Linked DNA regions of Homo sapiens. The protein of the gene in region 2 purifies or fractionates together with the protein of the main gene of each other region. This does not show direct contact. Each region holds a gene or a part of one and is shown on either strand. Other genes may lie near its edges.

Region 1 (4,476 bases), on a different chromosome or scaffold from region 2:
CCAGGCTCAGCCTCCCAAGTGATCCTGCTGGCTCAGCCTCCCAAGTAAGTAGCTGGGACCACAGGGGCACACCACCACGTCCAGTTAATTTTTAAAATTTTTATAGAGATGGGGTCTCACTCTGTTGCCCAGCCTGGTCTCAAACTCCTGGGCTCAAGCGATCCTCCCACCTTAGCTTCCCAAGTAGCTAGGACCACAAGCCCATACCACAGCACCCAGCATTCCAAGTAGCTAGTAACTACTTGTTACTAGTAACCAAGCTAGTGACAAAATTTTAGATGGGCAAATAGCCAGCCAGCTGTAGACAACGTTTTCATTTCCCAGTCTCCTTTGAGGTTAGGTATGACCAGGTGTCTAAGTTCTCACCAACAGGACATGACCAAAAGTGATAAAGCAGACTTATCTTTCCCCTTCCTGTGAACTGAACCGCAACCATGTCGGCAACCCAGCTGTTACCACAGACAATGACCAGGACCTAGGGGCCACCAAGCAACAAAAACAGGAACCAGGCCGGGCGCAGCAGCTCACACATGTCATCGCAGCATTTTGGGAGGCCGAGGCGGTAGGATCACCTGAGGTCAGGAGTTCAAGGCCAGCCTGGCCAACATGGCGAAACCCCATCTCTACTGAAAACACAAAAACTAGCCGGGTGTGGTGGTGCACACCTGTAATCCCAGCTACTTGGGAGGCTGAAGCACAAGAATTGCTTGAACCCAGGAGGCGGAGGTTGCAGTGAGCCAAGATCATGCCACTGCACTCTAGCCTGGGCAACAAAGTGAGACTCTGTCTCAAGAAAAAAAAAAAAAAAAAAAAAGCAGGAACCTGGGTCCCTGAGTGACATCATGGAGCAGGGCCTCACCCCCTGGACCACCCACCTCCCTGCAGGGCTCAGCATACAAGGGAGAAATAAACTCCTACTCCACTTAGGTCATGAAATTTTTGGAGTCTTTGTGTGACAGCAGCTTGGCATGCCCAATTTAAGTCTAATTATTTTTTTTTTTTTGAGACGGAGTTTCACTCTTGTTGTCCAGGCTGGAGTACAATGGCGCAATCTCGGCTCACTGCAACCTCCACCTCCCAGGTTCAAGCAATTCTTCTGCCTCAGCCTCCCGAGTAGCTGGGATTACAGGCGTGTGCCACCACACCCGGCTAATTTTTGTACTTTTAGTAGAGATGGGGTTTCGCCATGTTGGCCAGGCTGGTCTCGAACTCCTGACTTCAGGTGATCCGCCCACCTCAGCCTCCCAAAGTGCTGGGATTACAGGCCTCGTGAGCCACCACGCCCAGCATTTTTTTTTTTTTTTTTTTTTTTTGATACAGAGTCTCATTCTGTCGCCCAGGCTGGAGTGCAGTGGCATGATCTCGGCTCACTGTGACCTCCACCTCCCAGGTTTAAGTGATCCTCCTGCCTCAGCCTCCCAAGTAGCTGGGATTACAGGTGCCCACCACCACGTCCAGCTAATTTTTGAATTTTCTTATTCCCGTGTAAGTGCTAGAACCAGAAGCTCACAGGGGAAGTGAGCTGCCCAAGGCCAGGTAGCTCACAGAACCAGATTCAACCCATGTCCACGGTGGGCTGTAAGCCACTCAGCTAGACAGACTCCCACCCTGCTGACCTGCACGTCAGGGGTGAGTGAGGTAGTTACAGTAAAATCACTGCTCCCCATAACCAAAGCCGGGGACCAAGAGAAACACACAGAAACAGAATGCCACACAGAGCCTGTGCTCACAAGCACACCAGATAGAGAGAGCCCACCAGACAGACACACAGTGCCAGAAAGGGAGGAGAGATGGGGACGGAGGATGAGTGGGCAAGCATGCACCAGAGAGCGAGAAAAAGGGAGACAGAGAGGGACAGGGAGGGACACGCAGCACTAAGCAGGAGAGGGGAGGGAAGGAAGGCGAGGAGGAACAAGAAGACGGGGAGCAGGAGTAGGAGAGAAAGAGACAAGGAAAAACACACGAGCTCTAGGCGTGAGAGGGAAGGAACAGGGGGAACTAGAAGAGGGGGAGCAGGAGGAGGAGAAGGAGGTGGAGGAAGAGAGAAACAGAGCCAGATGCAAAGGCTCAGAGAGAGATACTGAAAGATGGACACACAGGACAAATGTGCATCTGAGAGGAGGAAAAAACAGAAACAGACAACAGAGAACCTCAGCCAGGGCTCCAGGCGCTGCCTAGCTCCTACCTTGGATTTACGGTCAGAGATTGAGGTGTCTCCAGCTCCAGAGAGGTGAGGTGAACCTCGGCCCCGGCCCCTCCGGCCACGGCCCCCAGCTCCTCCTCCTCGAGGCTGCTCCCCGGGGCTGCCCTCCCAGCTGCGCGATGCTCGGCCCATGCCGGCCCGGCCTCCCTGCTGTGGAGGAGTCCGGCCCCCCTTGCTGGCCCCTGGGGGCCGAGGGGTCCCAGGAGACCTCCGGGAAGGACCCAGGTTCTTCTCCTGGAAGAGGGGAGATGGGGAAAATACAGTCACTGGGGCAGGGAGGCATGCGGCCAGGATGGAGGCCACCCACTGGTGCAGGACAGCTGGGGGCTCCTGGGTCCCAGGCCTCAACCCTCTGCCCCTCCCCATCCTCAGGGTCCCACACCCCAGTGACGAGCTCACCGACTCCACTGCCACGTTCTCCTTCTCCACTGAGCGGCCCTTTCGGGGAGCTGTGACTGCGACTCCCTCAAGTTCAGCTTTCTTACGGTCTTCCTCAATCTCCTAGGAGCAGACAGCCGGGGTAGGGAAGCATCAGGTGCCCTGTCTGCCAGACGGACTCCCAGACCCCTGAACTCCTCCTAAGTCTGGCCCCAGCCCAGGCCTCTCTCCTGGACTCTGAACAAGAAGGCCGCTCATATCCCTCAAACCTCAGCACGTTGCAGCCCCACTCAGAACGTTCCTGTGGTGCCCCTCTGAGTAACAGCCTTCCCCACAGCCTGTGGGACCCGTGGGGTCTGGCCTTGGTACCTCCCCGACCTCATCTCTCACCCTCTCCCCACGATCACTCCGGCTTCCTTGCTATTCCCACAACATACCAGGCTGAAACCTGCCTCAGGGGCTTTGCGCCAGCGGATCCCTCTGCCAGGAACACTTTTCCCAGAGACCCTCCAACCCCTCACCTCCTGTAGGTCTCTGCTCCAATGCTGCCTTCTCGTGAGGCCTTCCCTGAGCACCCTGTGGAAACCAGCTCCCCTGCCACCCTCTCTGTTCTCATCCCATTTGCACCCAGCACCATATGCGTCTCGCTCACTGTCTGCTTCCTCCACTACGGCAGAATCTGCCTGGGGACAGGAATGTCTGTCTGCTTTCAGTGATGTATGTCACTGACGTGTATCCCAAGTCTAGAACGCTGCCTGGCCCACAAGGGAAATTCAATATGCCTTTTTTAAAATGAATGAATACATGAAGAATGAATAAATGAAACCCATGCCACCTCCCAGATCCCATCTCAGGGAGAGCCACATCACCTACTCAGCAGCCTTGTCCTAAATCCTCCCTCTTCCTCCCCCTGCCCTGAACTGCCCATCAGTAACTGAGTCCCTCTCAACAGCCCTGCCCTGAGCCAGGTACCTCCTCTCCCACTAGGGTTCCAGCCCCAGCTTCCTCCTTGGTCTCTGGGCTCCAGTATCACCTCCTCGCACCCACCACCGCACAGCACCCAGAGGCGTCTTCCTAAAGAGCTGTTCTGACCGGTCCCACCCCTGCTCAAGGCTCTCCCTGGCTCCCCAGTGCCCTCAGGACAAAGTCCAAACTCATCCTGGTGGCATTCAGGGCCTAGCACAGCCTGGCCCCTGCTGACCTGCCCAGGTCAATTCTCTCCTAACCAACCCTCCAACTTGAAGCTCCAAGCTCTCTCTTGCTTCCAACATTTGCACAAACTGTTCTTTCTGCCTGAAACATGTTCCCCTCGCCTTTTCAACTGGCTATTGTCTACTCACCACTCAAGCCTCAGAGTCCACTCCTCCAGGAAGCCCTCCCTGATATCCCCAAGGCTGGGTCAAGAGCCTCCTCTGGACTCCCACAGACCCCTGAATTTCCTGATTCCAGACTTGTCTGCTCTGGGGCATCCCTGAGGACAGGGCTGTCTCCCTGACTAGACGGTGGACCCTGGAGGGGGCAGGCCTGGGTCTGTCTCAGTCACAGCTATATCCCCAGCACCACTCAGCACTGGGGCTGGTAAAGATCTTGGGGAATATTTGTGAACAAATGAATGAATGAATGAATAATGGAATGAAAGAAGGGATGTCAGGCTAAGGCCTTTGGCCTTTATCCTGACAGTGATGGGGAGCCATGAAAAGGTTTTAAGGAAGGGAGAGGTGAGAAAAACTCACTGCGGGGAAGAGAGGGGATGGGGTCTCCCAGGGCGGGGCTAGGGCACCTGGTAGCGCCGGATGAGGGCCTCATTCTTCCGCCGAAGAGCCTCGATCCTCTTGTCCAACTCAGCATCCTTCTCCTCCTTTGATTTCAAATCGAGTGTGGCTGCCTGAGACCGG
Region 2 (4,451 bases):
AAGAAAAAAAAACTCCCCAAAACAAAGTTAAACTACAAAACAAGCTTGGAAAAAATATTTGCCAGGGATGATAGACAAAGGGTTAACTTCCCTCATGTTAAAAGACATTACATGTCAATAAGATCAATATTTTTCAATAAGAAAAACAAAAGGGAAAATGGGCAAATAACAGGAACAGAAATGTAAACCAATTATAGGACAAAAGTGCTCAAACTTAAAGAGTTAATTAAAGGAGATACTAATTTTACCTATTATACTGTTAGGGACTTCTTTTAAGGTCAGTATAGGGTTGGGGTGGGTTTAGGGGACTGGACACCACCATACACATTAGAAGAGGTACCCTCTTTGGGTGGTATCTGATAATATCAAAATTTAAACCACACATACTCTTTTATCCACATGCAAAAACTTGTCCATACACAAGAATATTAAGTAGAATTTGTAATTGCACAAACTGGAAATAACTGAAATGTCTATCAATAGGATGCTATGTAAGTGAGTTGTCATATTGTATAAAGGAACACTGTGCAGCTGTCAGAAAGAACAAGAAGAGTTATCTGTGCTGATACTTAAAAATCCCCAAGGGATAATGTTTAATGAAAACAAAAAGCAATCAAGCCACAGAATGTTAGGTAGAGCGTAGGCCCACCACATGCCCATTGTGTGAGGCAGGGAGAGGAGATACATATATGTGTATAAGTTAATGGGAATGACAGACAAGTAACTATTAACAGTGGTTGCCTTTGGGGAATGGGATTGGATTCAGGGAAAGAATTACTTTTCATTTTAAACCTTTCCGTAAAGTCTGTAATTCTTTATACCTGTATGTAGTTTTCACATATTACCCTTATTATTTTTAGCTAGTTTAAAATCGTTTTATATTCTGAACAAAGTTGAAGATATGGATATCTTAACATTTGAATTTACTCTTCTGGGGGAAAGGCATGTTTTGTAATCCCCAGTTTTCATTTTTTGTTGAGACAGGGTTTCCCTCTGTCACCCAGGCTGGAGTGCAGTGGCATGATCACAGCTCACTGCAGCCTTGACCTGCTGGACTCAAGCAATCTTTCCGTCTCAGCCTCCCCACCCTCCCAGCAGCTGGGACTACAGGCATGCACCACCACACCCAGCTAGTTTTTGTATTTTTGTAGAGATGAGGTTTCGCCATGTTGCCCAGGCTGGTCTCAAACTCCTGGGCTCAAGTGGTCTGCCCACTTTGGCCTCTCAAAGTGTTGGGATTACAGGTGTGAGCCACCATGCCCAACCATCAGTTTTATTTTCTAATAGAGGAAGTTCCTCAGGAAGAAAAGAACTTGGAGATAGGGTTTAGGGAAAATCATACAATCCTGTCTTGGCTCAATATCAGAGTAGTAAATAAAAAAGGACTGATTCTTATACCCAAATGCTGGGTTCTTATATGCTAAGACTGGGCACCAACTGGCACATTAGTAGATGTTTTGCTTACAGTGTTACTAATCTCCCAACACCGCTGCAAGGCAGGTAATTATTATCTCAGTTTTCCAGTGCCAAAAATCAATTGAACTCTTAAAGTTATCACATTCGTGATAGTCTTCCTTAGCTCCTGCCAAGCACCCACTCTCTGCTGGATATAACAAGGGAACTTTATTACATTTTCATTTAACCCTGTCAACAGTCCTCTAAAGTACATATCTTCATGTTAGGACAAAGAAACAGACTCAGAGAGATTAAGGAATTTGCCCAAAGTTACACAGCTAGTAGACATGGCTCTCTTTAATGCAAATGCAAATATTCCTTTTTTTTGAAACAGAGTCTTGCTCTGTCGCCCAGGCTGGTGTACAGTGGCATGATCTTGGCTAACTGCAGCCTCCACCTCCCAGGTTCAGTGACTCTCCTTGCCTCAGCCTCCCGAGTAGCTGGGTTTACAGGCACATGCTACCACGCCTGGCTAACTTTTATATTTTTAGTAGGGATGGGGTTTCACCATGTTGGCCGGGCTGGTGTCCAACTTCTGGCCTCAAGTGATCCACCCACCTTGGCCTCCCAAAGTGGTGGGATTACAGGTGTGAGCCACCGCGCCCAGCCAAATGCAAATGCAAATATTCTTACCACTGTACCACAGTGCTTGTTATTGGGGTTTTCATCTTTCTGATTTCAACATTGCTATCACTCTTGCTGGCTCTTCTTCCTCTACCCATCTCCTACCACTGGGGTTCCTTTCTTGGTGACACAGGATTTTTGCTCCTTAGCTCAGCTAGGTCCAGGTTCTTGTCTCACATTCAGGAAGAAATAGGCACGTGAACATGGAAGAGTGAGTGGAGTAGAATTTATCAAGCGAAACAGAAAGCTCTCAGCAAAAAGAGGGGTCCTGAAAACAGGTTGCTGGTTGCCCCCTTCGCAACTGAAAAGCTGATGGAGCTGGATTCCCTGTTTGTAAAGGCATGAATTCCTGGTGGCTCCACCCCATTCCCCCAGCGTGCATGTGGGGCCTTAGTGGGCTGCAGGCATGTTTAGGCAAGCCCCTGTGCAAGTTCCCTTATCTGCACAAAACATCTCATGTAACCATTTGTGGGACTGGTCAGAAGTTCTTCCGGGACCCTTCCCTACTGTCTGCCTAAAGCAAGCTGGCTAACTCCTTTCATTGGTTCATTTCACTTATATACACTCCCCAGCAATCTCATATACCTCCACAGTTCTCAAATACCACATATATACAGATGTTTCCAAATCTAAACATCTATCCCAGGTCTCTCTTCTGACCCCAAACCTTCATATCCAGCCGTCTACTCAACAGTCTCCTGGATTGCTCAGAGGCACCTCTTAACATATGTAAACCAGAGGGCAACACTGACCTCCCCAAACCTGCCTCTCCTCCTTTATGCTGCCCTATCCTATGAAGATTTTTTTTAAAATCAGGGCCGGGCACGGTAGCTCACGCCTGTAATCCCAGCACTTTGGGAGGCCTAGACAGGAGGATCACTTGAGCTCAGGAGTTCGAGACCAGCCTGGGCAATGCGGCGAAACTCTGTCTCTATAAAAAAAAAAATTAGCTGGGTGTAGTGGTGTGCACCTGTTGTCCCAGCTACTTGGGGGGCTGAGGCAGTAGGATTGCTTGAGCCCAGGAGGCAGAGGTTGCAGTGAGCTGAGACTGTGCCACTGCATTCCATCCTGGGTGACAGAGCCAGGCCCTGTCTCAAGAAATAATAAATGAATAAATAAATCAGGAAATTCCAATTTTTCTATTCGTAACATAGGTCTTACACTGACCCATATAATTTGGGGAAACTCCATCACTAAACTGAATTCTCTCTCTAAACTCTGCCTGAGGAGCCAAGACTAGGATAACTAGAGGAGGCCAAGAAGAGTGGTGCAGTTACCACAATTTTGTGAGGTGACTGTCTGGTCCCTTGCTCCTTACTCCCCTCAGAGGTAGATATGTAGAAAACTTCTGAAGATGTCCCCACACATAACATGTAATAACATCTATTGTGCCTGTACTTGATCAACATTTATAAAACTCCTCAATGAAAGCAGCAGTTGCTAATTCCTACAAAGAGTAATTTACATTTAGCATCCACTGACTGAATAAAATACCTAATGACAAAATGTTACCTTGAATTCAGTAATGATTTTAGATGAATCAGAATTTTCATTAATCATATCACGTACATATTTGTGAAAATGGCACAAAAATTTAAAACATGGTTATTCAGTCTCAAGGGTGTGCTTAGTGTGGAGTGACCCTCCTGCTCAGAACTCTACGGTTCTCTCACAGGTTTGCAAGGCAGTGCCAGAGAACAATTTTCAAAAAATAAATTAAAAAAGCAGAAATGAAAAAATCCTTGAAATGTTTTTTTTTTTCTTTCTTTCTCAGGGAGGGGCTTTCTATTTCATGGAGCATGTGGCAGCTGAGTGTTCGACTTGGAATTACTTCTGGCAACAAGTCCTGGATCCTGCCTGGCACCTTCTGTTTGATGGGTGCAACCTGACCAGAGAGAGCTGGAAGGCCCTGGAGCGGGCCAGCTTCTCTAAGCTGAAGCTGCAGCACATCCAGGCCCCACTGTCCTGGGAGTTGGTGCGCCCTCATATCTATGGATATGCTGTGAAATAGTGTGAGCTGGCAGTTAAGAGCTGAATGGCTCAAAGAATTTAAAGCTTCAGTTTTACATTTAAAATGCTAAGTGGGAGAAGAGAAACCTTTTTTTTGGGGGGCGGTTTTTTTGGTTTGTTGTTGGTTTTTTTTTTTTTTTTGGCGGGAAGAAAGAGTTTTGCTCTTGTTGCCCAGGCTGGAGTGCAATGACGTGATCTCCGCTCACTGCAACCTCCACCTCGCGGGTTTAAGCGATTCTTCTGCCTCAGCCTCCCTAGTAGCTGGGATTACAGGTGCCCACCACCATGCCCAGCTAATTTGTATTTTTAGTTGAGACAGGGTTTCACTACGTTGGCCAGGCTGGTCTTGAACTCCTGATCTC

What was found.
Region 1: the proteins of TMT1A (region 2) and CCDC9 purify together in Homo sapiens (affinity purification with mass spectrometry; one large-scale study listed by BioGRID and IntAct). This does not show direct contact.

Annotation. Positions count from the first base shown.
Region 1 is NC_000019.10:47,258,549-47,263,024, reverse strand, and holds part of CCDC9 (coiled-coil domain-containing protein 9), read right to left. Parts: intron 4,467-4,476; coding exon 4,362-4,466; exon of another isoform or gene 4,315-4,361; intron 2,705-4,314; coding exon 2,603-2,704; intron 2,438-2,602; coding exon 2,186-2,437; intron 1-2,185. UniProt on the Homo sapiens protein: Probable component of the exon junction complex (EJC), a multiprotein complex that associates immediately upstream of the exon-exon junction on mRNAs and serves as a positional landmark for the intron exon structure of genes and directs post-transcriptional processes in the cytoplasm such as mRNA export, nonsense-mediated mRNA decay (NMD) or translation.
Region 2 is NC_000012.12:50,926,061-50,930,511, forward strand, and holds part of TMT1A (thiol S-methyltransferase TMT1A precursor), read left to right. Parts: intron 1-3,853; coding exon 3,854-4,090; 3' UTR 4,091-4,451. UniProt on the Homo sapiens protein: Thiol S-methyltransferase that catalyzes the transfer of a methyl group from S-adenosyl-L-methionine to alkyl and phenolic thiol-containing acceptor substrates.